2 separate regions of the Homo sapiens genome follow, and region 1 is linked to region 2. The links come from fine-mapping of genetic effects on gene expression. A gene starts in region 2. The other region holds a variant in brackets. All regions are shown on one strand. Distances are between the middles of the regions. Region 1 overlaps GALNTL5 (polypeptide N-acetylgalactosaminyltransferase like 5). Region 2 holds the start of PRKAG2-AS2 (PRKAG2 antisense RNA 2).

The links. PIP is the estimated chance that this variant, and not a neighbour inherited with it, causes the effect.
Region 1: its variant is fine-mapped to the expression of PRKAG2-AS2 in ileum (GTEx, PIP above 0.99).

Annotation. Positions count from the first base shown.
Region 1 is chr7:151,996,829-152,002,209 of GRCh38, reverse strand. All of the region lies in intron 5 of GALNTL5 (polypeptide N-acetylgalactosaminyltransferase like 5), which reads right to left. Among named protein-coding and RNA genes, the nearest start is that of GALNT11, 26 kb to the left of the region's middle. The variant T/AT (reference allele first, on the strand shown) is at 2,540.
Region 2 is chr7:151,803,716-151,809,096 of GRCh38, reverse strand. It overlaps PRKAG2-AS2 (PRKAG2 antisense RNA 2), which reads right to left and starts at 2,759. Exons shown (of 3, transcript NR_171033.1): 1 at 2,061-2,759; 2 at 1,462-1,725. All of the region lies in intron 1 of PRKAG2 (protein kinase AMP-activated non-catalytic subunit gamma 2), which reads left to right.

The sequences.
Region 1 (5,381 bases), 190 kb before region 2:
CTCCCGGGTTCAAGCAATTCTCCTGCCTCAGCCTCCCAAGTAGCTGGGATTACAGGTGCCTGCCAACATGCCAGGCTAATTTTTGTATTTTTAGTAGAGACGGGGTTTCACCGTGTTGGCCAGGCTGGTCTCGAGCTCCTGACCTCAGGTGATCCGCCCACCTCAGCCTTTGAGTTCAAGCTTCAGTGGGGACCTATTCTGCTTAGAGGACATGGGAATAATTGGCATGGTTAAAGTAGAGAAAGTGTATTATTGAAGTACACCAGGGGCTTGATGTAGAAGGAACCCCAAACTTCAAGTAGCAGAGTTTAGACTTTTTCTTGTAGCCAGTGTAAAATCATTAGAAAGGTATAAAAAAATCTCATGTTTTGATCAGAAGACTTAATATGGCAATAACCCCCATACTAATCTACAGATTTAGTGCAATCCCTATTGCAATCCCAGCTGGCTCTTTTTAAAGAAATTGATCCTAAAAGTCATATGAAAAGGCAATGGACCTAGATTAGCCAAAATAATTTTGAAAAAGAAAAATAAGGTTGAAGGGCTTTCTGATTTCAAGGGTTACTACAAAGTGATAATAATCAAAACAGTGTGCCATTGGTGTAAGGATAGACACAGAAACCAGAAATAAACCATGTGTCTATGGTCAATTGATTTTTGACAAGGGCCAAGACAATTCAATGGAGAAAGTATAGTCTTTTCAATAAATTGTGCTGAGGCAACGGAATATCCACATGCAAAAGAATGAAGTTAGACCCCTACCTCATATCATACTAAAAATCAAATCAAATGGGTCATAGACCTAAGGTAAGAGCTAAAATTATAAAACTCAGAAGGAAACATAAGCATATATTTATGACCTTAGGTGAGGCAATGGTTTCTTAGATATGACACCAAAAATACAGGGGACATAAGAAAAAACATATACGTTGGAATTCATCAAAAGCAAAAACTTTTGTGCTTAAAAGACACAATCGAGAAAATGAAAAAAAAAAAATGGCTGGTGCGGTGGCTTATGCCTGTAATCCCAGCACTTTGGGAGGCTGAGGGGGGTGGATCACCTGAGGTCAGGAGTTCAAGACCAGCCTGGCCAACATAGCGAAACCCCGTCTCTATTAAAAATACAAAAAAAAAAAATTAGCCAGGTGTGGTGGTGGGTGCCTGTAATCCCAGCTACTTAGGAGGCTGAGGCAGGAGAATCACTTGACCCCAGGAGGCGGAGGTTGCAGTGAGCCAAGATCGTGCCACTGCACTCCAGCCTGGGTGACAGAGCAAGACTCTGTCAAAAAAAAAAAAAAGAAAGAAAAAAAAGAAAAGAAAAGAAAAAGAAACAAAGAAAGAGAAAAAAATCCACAAAATGGGGGAAAGTATTTCCAAATCATACATATACTAAAGGACTTGTATGAGAATATATAAATAATTCTTACAAGTTAGTAATAAAAAGACAACCTGATTTAAAATGCGCAAGAGATTTGAATAGACATCTTTGCAAAGACGTATAAATGGCTGATGAGCATGTGAAAAGATGTTCAACACCATTAGTCATCAGAAAAACGTTAATAAAAATCACAGTGAGGTATCCCTTTACATCCACTAGGACGGCAAGAATGAAAAAGACAGACAATAGCAAGTGTTGGGGAGGTGGTGGAGAAATTGAAACACTTGTCCAGTGCTGTTGGGAATGATGGGTGGGAGGGGAGGAGTACAGAGAACAGGAAAGTTCTCTCTTGCCTGAAGGGCACTCTCTGGGCTGAGTTCTCTGAGGGTGTGTGGCTGGCAATAGCAACTTTGAGGACCTCCCTTCTCATCCCTGGTGGTCTCTGGTCAGCAGTTCCCACAAACTGGGCAAGTGCATTCTATTCTGGTGACTCAATCTGTCTTCTCAGCTCCTTAAGATCCTGTGTTCTGTCTCCAGCTTCTCTGCTGAGGCCTGTCCATTCTTCTAGATAGTCCTACCGGACACCATCTAAGATGATCCCTATAGCTCTCTCTCCAACACTGCCAAAGCAAACTCTGCCATAAATACAGCTACTAATCTAAAAGCAAGTGTCCTTTGTTCTACAGCTGGTCACAGTCTTTTTATCCTTTTGATTTTCGGCAGAAAACTAACATTAGTTCACTTCTCCTCAATCCCAATATATTTCCAATTTTATTGTATTGATGTCTGAGAATGTGCTGAATTCATATCAAGTCTCTCTCACCAGGCTTTGAGCAGTAGCTTTCTCCAAAAATCTCCTTTAATCTCTAACAACATGACTCAATCTGGCTGAGCCATCTCATTGGTTCTCAGATCTCTATTTTGAAATATCTTTATCGTGGTCAGTCTAACAACTCACTTTGGAATATTACAGCTATGATTTTCATGCCTCAACCAAAACTGAGCTAACAAGAGTCCCATTTTTAACACATATGTTTTCATACTATTGGCAGCACACACACAGCTTTATACTTCACATTTTTCACCTAAAATAGCTTCTATAATATTACGTAACATTATTAGCATTTTAAAATCATGTCTGCTCATTTGATAGGTGAAAAA[T/AT]AACATCTGGTTCTCCTAAGAAGATGTACGAATGGCTAGCAAGCACACAAACAGATGCGAAACATCATGTCATTAGGAAAACACAAATCAAAACCAACGTGAAGAACCACTTCACTTCCACTAGGATGACGAGAACTTAAAAAATGAAAAATAAGTTTTGGCAGGGATATGGAGAAATTTGAACTCTTACACATTGCTGGTGGGAGTGTAAATGGTGCAGCCACTGAAGAAAAGAGCTTGGCAGCTCCTCAAAAAATTAAACCTGGAATTACCATAAGACCCAGCAATTCTATTCCTAGGAACATGCCCAAAAGAATTCAAACAAATGTATATATGTGCATGGTCACAGCAGTACTGTTGACAACAGCCAAAAGAGGGAAACAGCCCAAATGCCCATCAATGGATGAATGGAGAAACAAACTGTGGTGTATCACAGAATGGAATATTATTCAACCATAAAAAAGGAAGCACTGACACATCCACCATGTGGATGAACCTCAAAAATATACTAAGTGAAAGAAGCCCGACACAAAAAGTTACATATTGTATGATTCCGTTGATATGAAATATCTAGAAAGAGACAGAACACAGATAGGTGGTTGCCAGAGACTGGAGGGAAGGAAGCTGCTTAATGGCTAAAAGACTTTCTTTTCAGGTAATGAAAATGTTTTGGAGTTAGAGGTCATGGCTGTACAACATTGTGAAGGTGCGAAATGCTACTTAATTGTTCATTTTTAAATGATCAGTTTTATGTTAATCGTGCCTCAATTTTAAAAAATCTGGTTAATTTTTTTTTAATCGCTGGTGAGGTTGAATTTTCCACATGATTAGCCATTTGTAAATGAAATTGTCGTGTACTTTGCCTATCGGAGTAGTTTTGTTTTTTGTTTTTTTTTTTTTAGATAGAGTCTCGCTCTGTCACCCAGGCTGGAGTGCAGTAGCATGATCTCAGCTCACTGCAACATTCACCTCCTGGCTTCAAGCAATTGTCCTGCTTCAGCCTCCCAAGTAGCTGGGATTACAGGCACCTGCCAACATGTCCAGCTAATTTTTGTATTTTTAGTGGAGATGGGGTTTCACCGTGTTGGCCAGGCTGGTCTCAAACTTCTGACTTCAAATGATCTACCTGCCTCAGCCTTCCAAAGTGCTGGGATTATGGGCGTGAGCCACCATGCCCAGCTTGGAGTTGTATTTTTAATGGATTTTAAATGTACATTTTACATACTAAAAATATTAACTTTTAGTCCTGTTACATTTCCCCAGCCTACTGTTATTTAATTTTATTATTTTTTATTTGCAGCAATTTTACATTTTTTTGTTAAAAAAATAGACTTTTTTTTAGCACCTTTTCCATTGGTTTTAAGCTTTGAAATTTCTTTATTCATAAAACAGGCAAGTATTAATCTATGTTTTTATATTTTTAAATTATCCCTTAAGAAGTTTGATGATGATGATGTTTTTACAGAGACAGTCTCACTCTGTTGCCCAGGCTGGAGTGGAGTGGTGCTATTATAGCTCACTATAACCTCCAACTCCTGGACTCAAGCGATCCTCTTGCCTCAGCCTCCTGAGTAGCTTAGGACTACAGGTGTGCACCAACACACTCGCCTACTTTTTTTAATAAAAATTTTTGTAGAGATGGTGTCTCACTGTGTTGTCAGGCTGGTCTTAGAACTCCTGGCCTCAAGCAATCCTCTTGCCTTGGCCTCCTAAAGCGCTAGGATTACAAGCATGAGCCACCACACCTGGCTATGGTTTGATTTTTTAAAATAAAATTAACATTAATCCAGTTATAATTTATTTGGGTTATGGTATGAAATAAAGACCTAAAATTTTCCCAAATGGCTAATTGTTTAAGTGGCATTAAACAACAACTGCAACAAAAACATTTTAAAAGTCTTTTTTCCCATACAGATTTGTGGTATCTCTTTACTGTATACAGTGTACACTTGTACCCTTAATATTGAAAGATTTAAATATTTGCAACTTTGAGGATTCTAATGACCCAGAAAGACCATAAATGCAATATTAAAAATTGCAAAATAATTTAAAATTATACTTTATGCAAAATTAATATGGGGTATTACTGAATTTTGATTTAAGTTAAAAACGTGGGAACAGGCCACCTAGCACCTACATTTCAATGAGGTTTTATTTTCACTCATCATAAAATATTTAACAGGGGAAATTTACATCCTGTAAGGAGAGCAAAGTAGTAGTGAGGGTCCCTCTTCAGCTGATTTCTCTCCTTCACAGGAATATTTTGTGGAAACCTAAAGTTTGGTGCTAGGAAAGGACGGTTGCTCTACTTCTGCTGCCTTCGAGAGTTTCGGGAAGGACCGTGCTATTTATTGGTTTTAGAGATGGCCTATCATTCATGTGCTAGATGACCTATCAGACATTCATCAGATTCTCTTTAGTGCTTGTGATGAGTAAAGGGCGTGAGGTCAAGCCTGCCTGATAGAGGAATTCTTCCCCTACTTGCTTCCAAAGAGTATTTGTGGAAATATTCTAAACAATTCCATTGCTCCCTAAAGTTTGGAGTTGGGAGCTACGTCCTCCATCTTACCCTGTGTAGAAGCTTATTTTCTGCTCTCCTGTCGTAGTCTATTTGCACCATTTCTCTAGGGATTGTGGATTGCAACGTTTGTTAACTTGTTTTTTGAAAAGCAACAAATAGCGTATGTATCAATTTCACAGTATTTCCTGTTTTTCTCTGTTTTGTATTTATTTTCGTTCTTTGGTTAGTGTCCACATTTTCACCCTTAAACGTAACTCATTATATATAATTTATTTTACATCACATTAAAATTCTCAGTTTGGTCTCTACAACCAAGCATTT
Region 2 (5,381 bases):
CCCTCTGAGTCACCCCATACTCATCCGTGCAAGGCGTAGAGCCCTGAGACGTGCTCACTGGCATCTTCCAACACGAACTCCAGGGGGACGATTGGAAGGAAGGGTGGCCGTGGAGTGGGGAGGAGGGGGAGCGCGGGAGAGAACCGTGCTCCCACCAGGCCTGGGCTTGGGCGTGAGGAGCTTTAAGTGCCCCACTGCGGCGTTAGGATAGCCAAGGCTTTAGCCTTGGATGCTGGCCCAGACCCTTCGGGGGTCTCACAGACTGCAGGACTTGCAGCTGCTCCTCCCTGGCTGCCTGGAGGCCGGCCCTCAGGCCGCGCAGCCATCTGTCGTGGTTCGCCTGTGAGGAGAGACTTGGGAGGGAGGGGCTTTCTGAGGCCTCTATTTTTTTTTTTCTCCTGTTCACCTTCCTTCTCAAAGCCCGACTTGATCTATGAGAACCATCTCCCCTACTGTCTCCTGACTGGGGAGAAAAGATGTCAGCGGATAGCCTCAAGCCCCCCCAACAACCTGCACTAGACTCTCTTGTTACAGTACACGTTCCTGGGTCTCGCCCGTCTGCTGACTGTGCATCACCAGGCGCTCAGCCATGCCTTGTGTGCACTTTGGACCAGCTTTGCAGGAGAGAGGCCTCCTGTTTCCCTGCTGCTCTTTTATCTGAGGAACAAAATCATGGGCCTTCTTGCCTACAGTCCAACTGGTCATTGAGTCTAGCAGTTTCCCCCCAAATCAGTTTCACCCATGAAGAGAGATAAGTAAATCCTTGTGCAATTGCAAAAGAAAAAAAAAGAATCCAGAGTATTTTTCAATGGTCCCAAATGCCGAGGCACTGCGGTTCAGCCAGCTACACCTTGTCTGGAATACTGTCGACAAACTAGAGTCCTGCCAGATGCACTTGACAATGAAATCAACCCGAGCATCACCAATCTCTGGTGCTGGACTCAGCTGCCACCACTTTGACAAAGTCTGGAGTGCAGTGAGTGAGGACACTAGGTGATGGGTGGGGAGCCCCGCCCGCTGTGGCCGGGGTTCCTCACATTTTAAATATCTGCCGTCGTCTTGCTGCGGGGCGGTCCCTGTGCTCACTTGGGCAGAGGGAAAGGGGGTAGTTTGTAGGGAGGGGTTACGAAACTATGCCTTTAGCCTCTTCCTTCCTCCAGAGCCTTCCCTTGAGTCTAGCGTCCCCACTACAGGCTTCCCCCGACTTTTATTCTCCAAGCGGTTTTTCTGTTTGGCCGTTGTCTCCACCGCATCCAGATTTATCTCTTCTCTCCCCTATGCCTTTTGGGTCTTCTGAGAGTAGCTAATCCAATAACCCGCCAAGTCAGAGAAGGGTTCGGATGCACGAGTTCTCGCTCCTGGCTTCCTCTGAAATGCTGCCTTGACCCAAGTGAGGGGCCCGGGAATAGGCAGTGGAAACGGTTGTGTAGGTTTGGGACATCGCACCCTGCTGGGACTTACCTGTTGGAGAAACTGGGCTTTTGGTGGCAAACGAATCATTCTTCCTACCTCCGTGGCAGCTGTGCATCTACGCTGGGTTCTGGAAGGCGCAGTGCTGGCCATTTCAGCTCGTAGGTTGGGAAGAAGGGGCAGTGTGCCCGATCTGATAGGTGTAACACGCCATGGTGCTTTGGCACCAAGAGGCCAATTGAAACTGGAGAGTTTTAGAGAATAAAGTATGACCGTCACCCACAGCACAGCTGCTTCCTGAAAATTCCACTCCCGCTGCATGAAAAAGCACATGGAGTATTCCAGGATTCTTAATATAGGCATTTTCCCACGTTCTGTAGATTGCTTGTTTTTCTTCCCCTATCCCATGGGTCTGCTGGTGGCTGACTGGCCACTTTTTGGTCAGCTTTATTGAGGTGTGATTTACATATAATGCCCTTTGACTGACAGTATACAATTAGATGGGTTGTCGTAAGTGTGCACAGTCATGTGACCACCGCCACAGTGTGATCTGGAACATTTCCACCACTCCACAAGGTCCCTCTGACCCTTTACAGCCTCTGCCCTTCCCCACCTCCACCTTCAGACTTGAGGGTGGGTCCATGTCTTACCTTTGTGTATCCCATGTCCAGCGCAATTCTGAACCCAGGTGGACACAAGTGATGTTTAAATGAGTACATTAGGAGGCCTGGCTTTTTTTTTTCCCCAGGCTGGAGTGCAATGGTGCGATCTTGGCTCACTTCAACCTCCATCTCCCAGGTTCAAGCGATTCTCGTGGCTCAGCCTCCTGAGTAGCTGGGACTACAGCATGCACCAACACGCCCAGCTAACTTTTTATAGTGTTAGTAGAGACAGGGTTTTGCCATGTTGCCCAGGCTGGTCTTGAGCTCCTGAGCTCAGGTGGTCTGCCCGTCTCCACCTCAAAGTCCTCAGGTTACAGGTGTGAGCCACTGTACCCAGCCAGCTCTGGCATATTTTAAAAATCCTCCCAAGACTCCTTCTGTCTCCTCCCATTGATCCTAAATTTTGAAGGATTGTCCACCCAAGCATTTGTTAATTAGTAATTTCTTCATTTAGTCACTCACTCCTGGTACCAGCCTTCCTGATCAGCCTGAGATAATCAGCGTGACCGAAGTTGATAACATTCCAGCTGAAAGCAGAGACTTGCTGTTCTCGTTTGCCTATGCAGTCACGGGTGAAATGTGCAATTTCCTTTCCGTTCCTTGAGTGCCTGCGAGCACTGCGAGAGCCTCCATTGTTACTTTCTGTTATCTCTCACCCTAGACCAGAAATCGCCAGCCTTCACCACTGGCCTCTGCCTTTTTCTTTTTTCTTTTAATAATAAATGAGGAAGTTAGCCCTTGAGCAATTTAGGAGTTCACCCAAGAGCACCCCAAAAGGCTTGAAGTTTACAGGGATTTTTCTCTGTCCCAAACTGTTTGTTGTTGTCATAGTTGTTGAGACGGAGTCTCGCTCTGTCGCCCAAGCTGGGGTGCAGTGGTGGGATCCTGGCTCACTGCAACCTCCGCTTCCCGGGTTCAAGCGATTCTCCTGCTTCAGCCTCCTGAGTAGCTGGGACTACAGGCGGCCACCACCACGCCCAGCTAATTTTTGTATTTTTAGTAGAGACAGGTTTGGCCAGGCTGGTCTAGAACTCCTGACCTCAGGTGATCAGCCTGCCTTGGCCTCCCAAAATGCTTGGACTATAGGCGTGAGCCACTGTGCCCAGCCTGTCCTAAACTTTGTCACCAAGGATTTGATGTGTCCCTTCATTCTGCCTTCCTGAGCTCCCTTTCACTTGTACGTTGGGGAAGGATCTTGGCAAACCTGAAGGTAAGGTGGAATCTGCCTCTTTCCTCTCATCAAAGCTCTGAGAAGGAAGAATCTGTAGTGTCCCTGGGTTCAGTAATCATAGTATATTGCCTCTAAACTCAGTGAAGCATTTTAAAGTGATAACTCATGTTTTCCAAATGAGTCCCAGGCATCACAGCCATGTCTTTGTTAACTCATATGTGGTTCTATACTTCTATATGTTAACTCATTTTCCAGTAGGAACTCCCATGATTCCCAGTTTTTAGATTAAAAAACAGAGAAATGAAGTAACTTTCCCAGGGTTACATAGTCACAAGATCACCTATTGCTACATAACAAACCACCCCAAAACTTAAAAATATGATTTGAAATCATCTTTCATGGATTTAGGAGTCATCTGGCTCAGCTGAGTTCTCACTGGGGGTTCCTCCTATTTGAAAAGTCAGGTGGCAGCTGAGCCTGGCACATCCTAGAGGCTCCTTCACTCTCACATCACTCCCTGGGGCTGGCCGTGCAGCTGTTTCTCCATCCGTGCAGCCTCTCCACGTGGCTGGCTTGAGCTTCCTCATAACATGGTGGTCTTGGTGCAGATTCCTAACGTGGCAGCTGGTTTCACCCGCGGCAGACATTACAAGAGATCCAGGAGGAACTGCGAGGTTCCTTCTCACCTAACCCAGAAGTCAGGTGGTGTGGTTTCTGCTGCATTTCTGTTGAGCACAGCTGCCCCAACTCAAGGATGGAGGAACAGATTCGCCCACTCAACAGGAGACAGCACATGTATGCAGGGAGGGACCACATTCCTAGTGGCTGTCCTGTGGGCTACTTACCCCATGGAGCCCCTGTGCCTGCCATGCGTTGAGCCACTTCCGCAGCGGCTTTCAGACTTTGACAGTGAGCCACGGCGAGGAACTTCACATCATGACCTATTGGATATAGACATCCCAGAAAACTCCTGGAGCTCTGGTTTTGTTCTATGAACAGCAGCCGCAACAAAACCTGTGTGTCCTGAGTGGATTTTATGACCTATGTCCTACGTGCAGTTTGAGAAGCAGTTCCACAGGATGCCACCTCAAGTGCCGACTCTGTGCCGCGATGGAACACCACGGAATAAAGAAAACAAATGTCAATTTGGGTTACACAGATGCCACGTCTTACCAACCCAGCAAAAGTCCAGGTGTTGAACAAAATAGCCTGTTGGTGAGTCAGTGCGGGAAATAGACTCTCCTACATCATAGTTAGGAGAGCAAACTGTCCAATGCTGAGGAGGGCTCGTGGTGACATCCGTGTCCCCACCCAAATCTCCTCTTGAATTGTAATTCCCACATGTCAAGGGAGAGAGCAGGTGGAGGTAATTCAATCATGGGGGTGGTTTCCCCCATGCTGTTCTGTGATAGTGAGTTCTCACGAGATCTGTTGGTTTTATAAGGGGCCCTTCCCCCTGTCTGCACGTGGCAGAAATAATAAATGCACTGACCTGCAAGCAGCAGCCACACTTCTGGGAACTTATGCTGGAAATATGAAGTATGGACCAAGTTTTTATTGTATTAATTCTCTGTAATTGCCAAAGATTGAAAGCAGCCTGCGTCACCTACAGGGGACTGGTTAAACTAGAGCATTCCAGACAAAAGCATATGACGTGGATACCCCCAAATCCCTACGTGCTGATATTGAAAGATCTCCCAGATAGGCGAGGCAGTAAGACACGAGCAAAACAGATAAGAGACAGGGAACAGCCTTCATATTTGCATTTGCATAAAGCAACCCTAGCTGTCTACGCAACTAAAAGTGGTTCCTCTGGGGACATGGCATGGCTGGGCCAAGGGTATGACTCTTCAATTACAGGTTGTTATGTTTTGACTTTTGAATCCTATTAATTTACTTTTTTTTTTTTTTTTTTTGAGACATAGTCTCGCACTGCTGCCCAGTCTGGAGTGCAGTGGCGCGATCTCAACTCACTGCAACCTCTGCCTCCCAGGTTCAAATGATTCTCCTGCCTCAGCCTCCTGAGTTGCTGGGACTATAGGCGCCCACCACCATGCCCAGCTAATTTTTGTATATTTAGTAGAGATGGGATTTCACCATGTTGGCCAAGCTGGATGAATTTACTTCTTAAAAAAAAA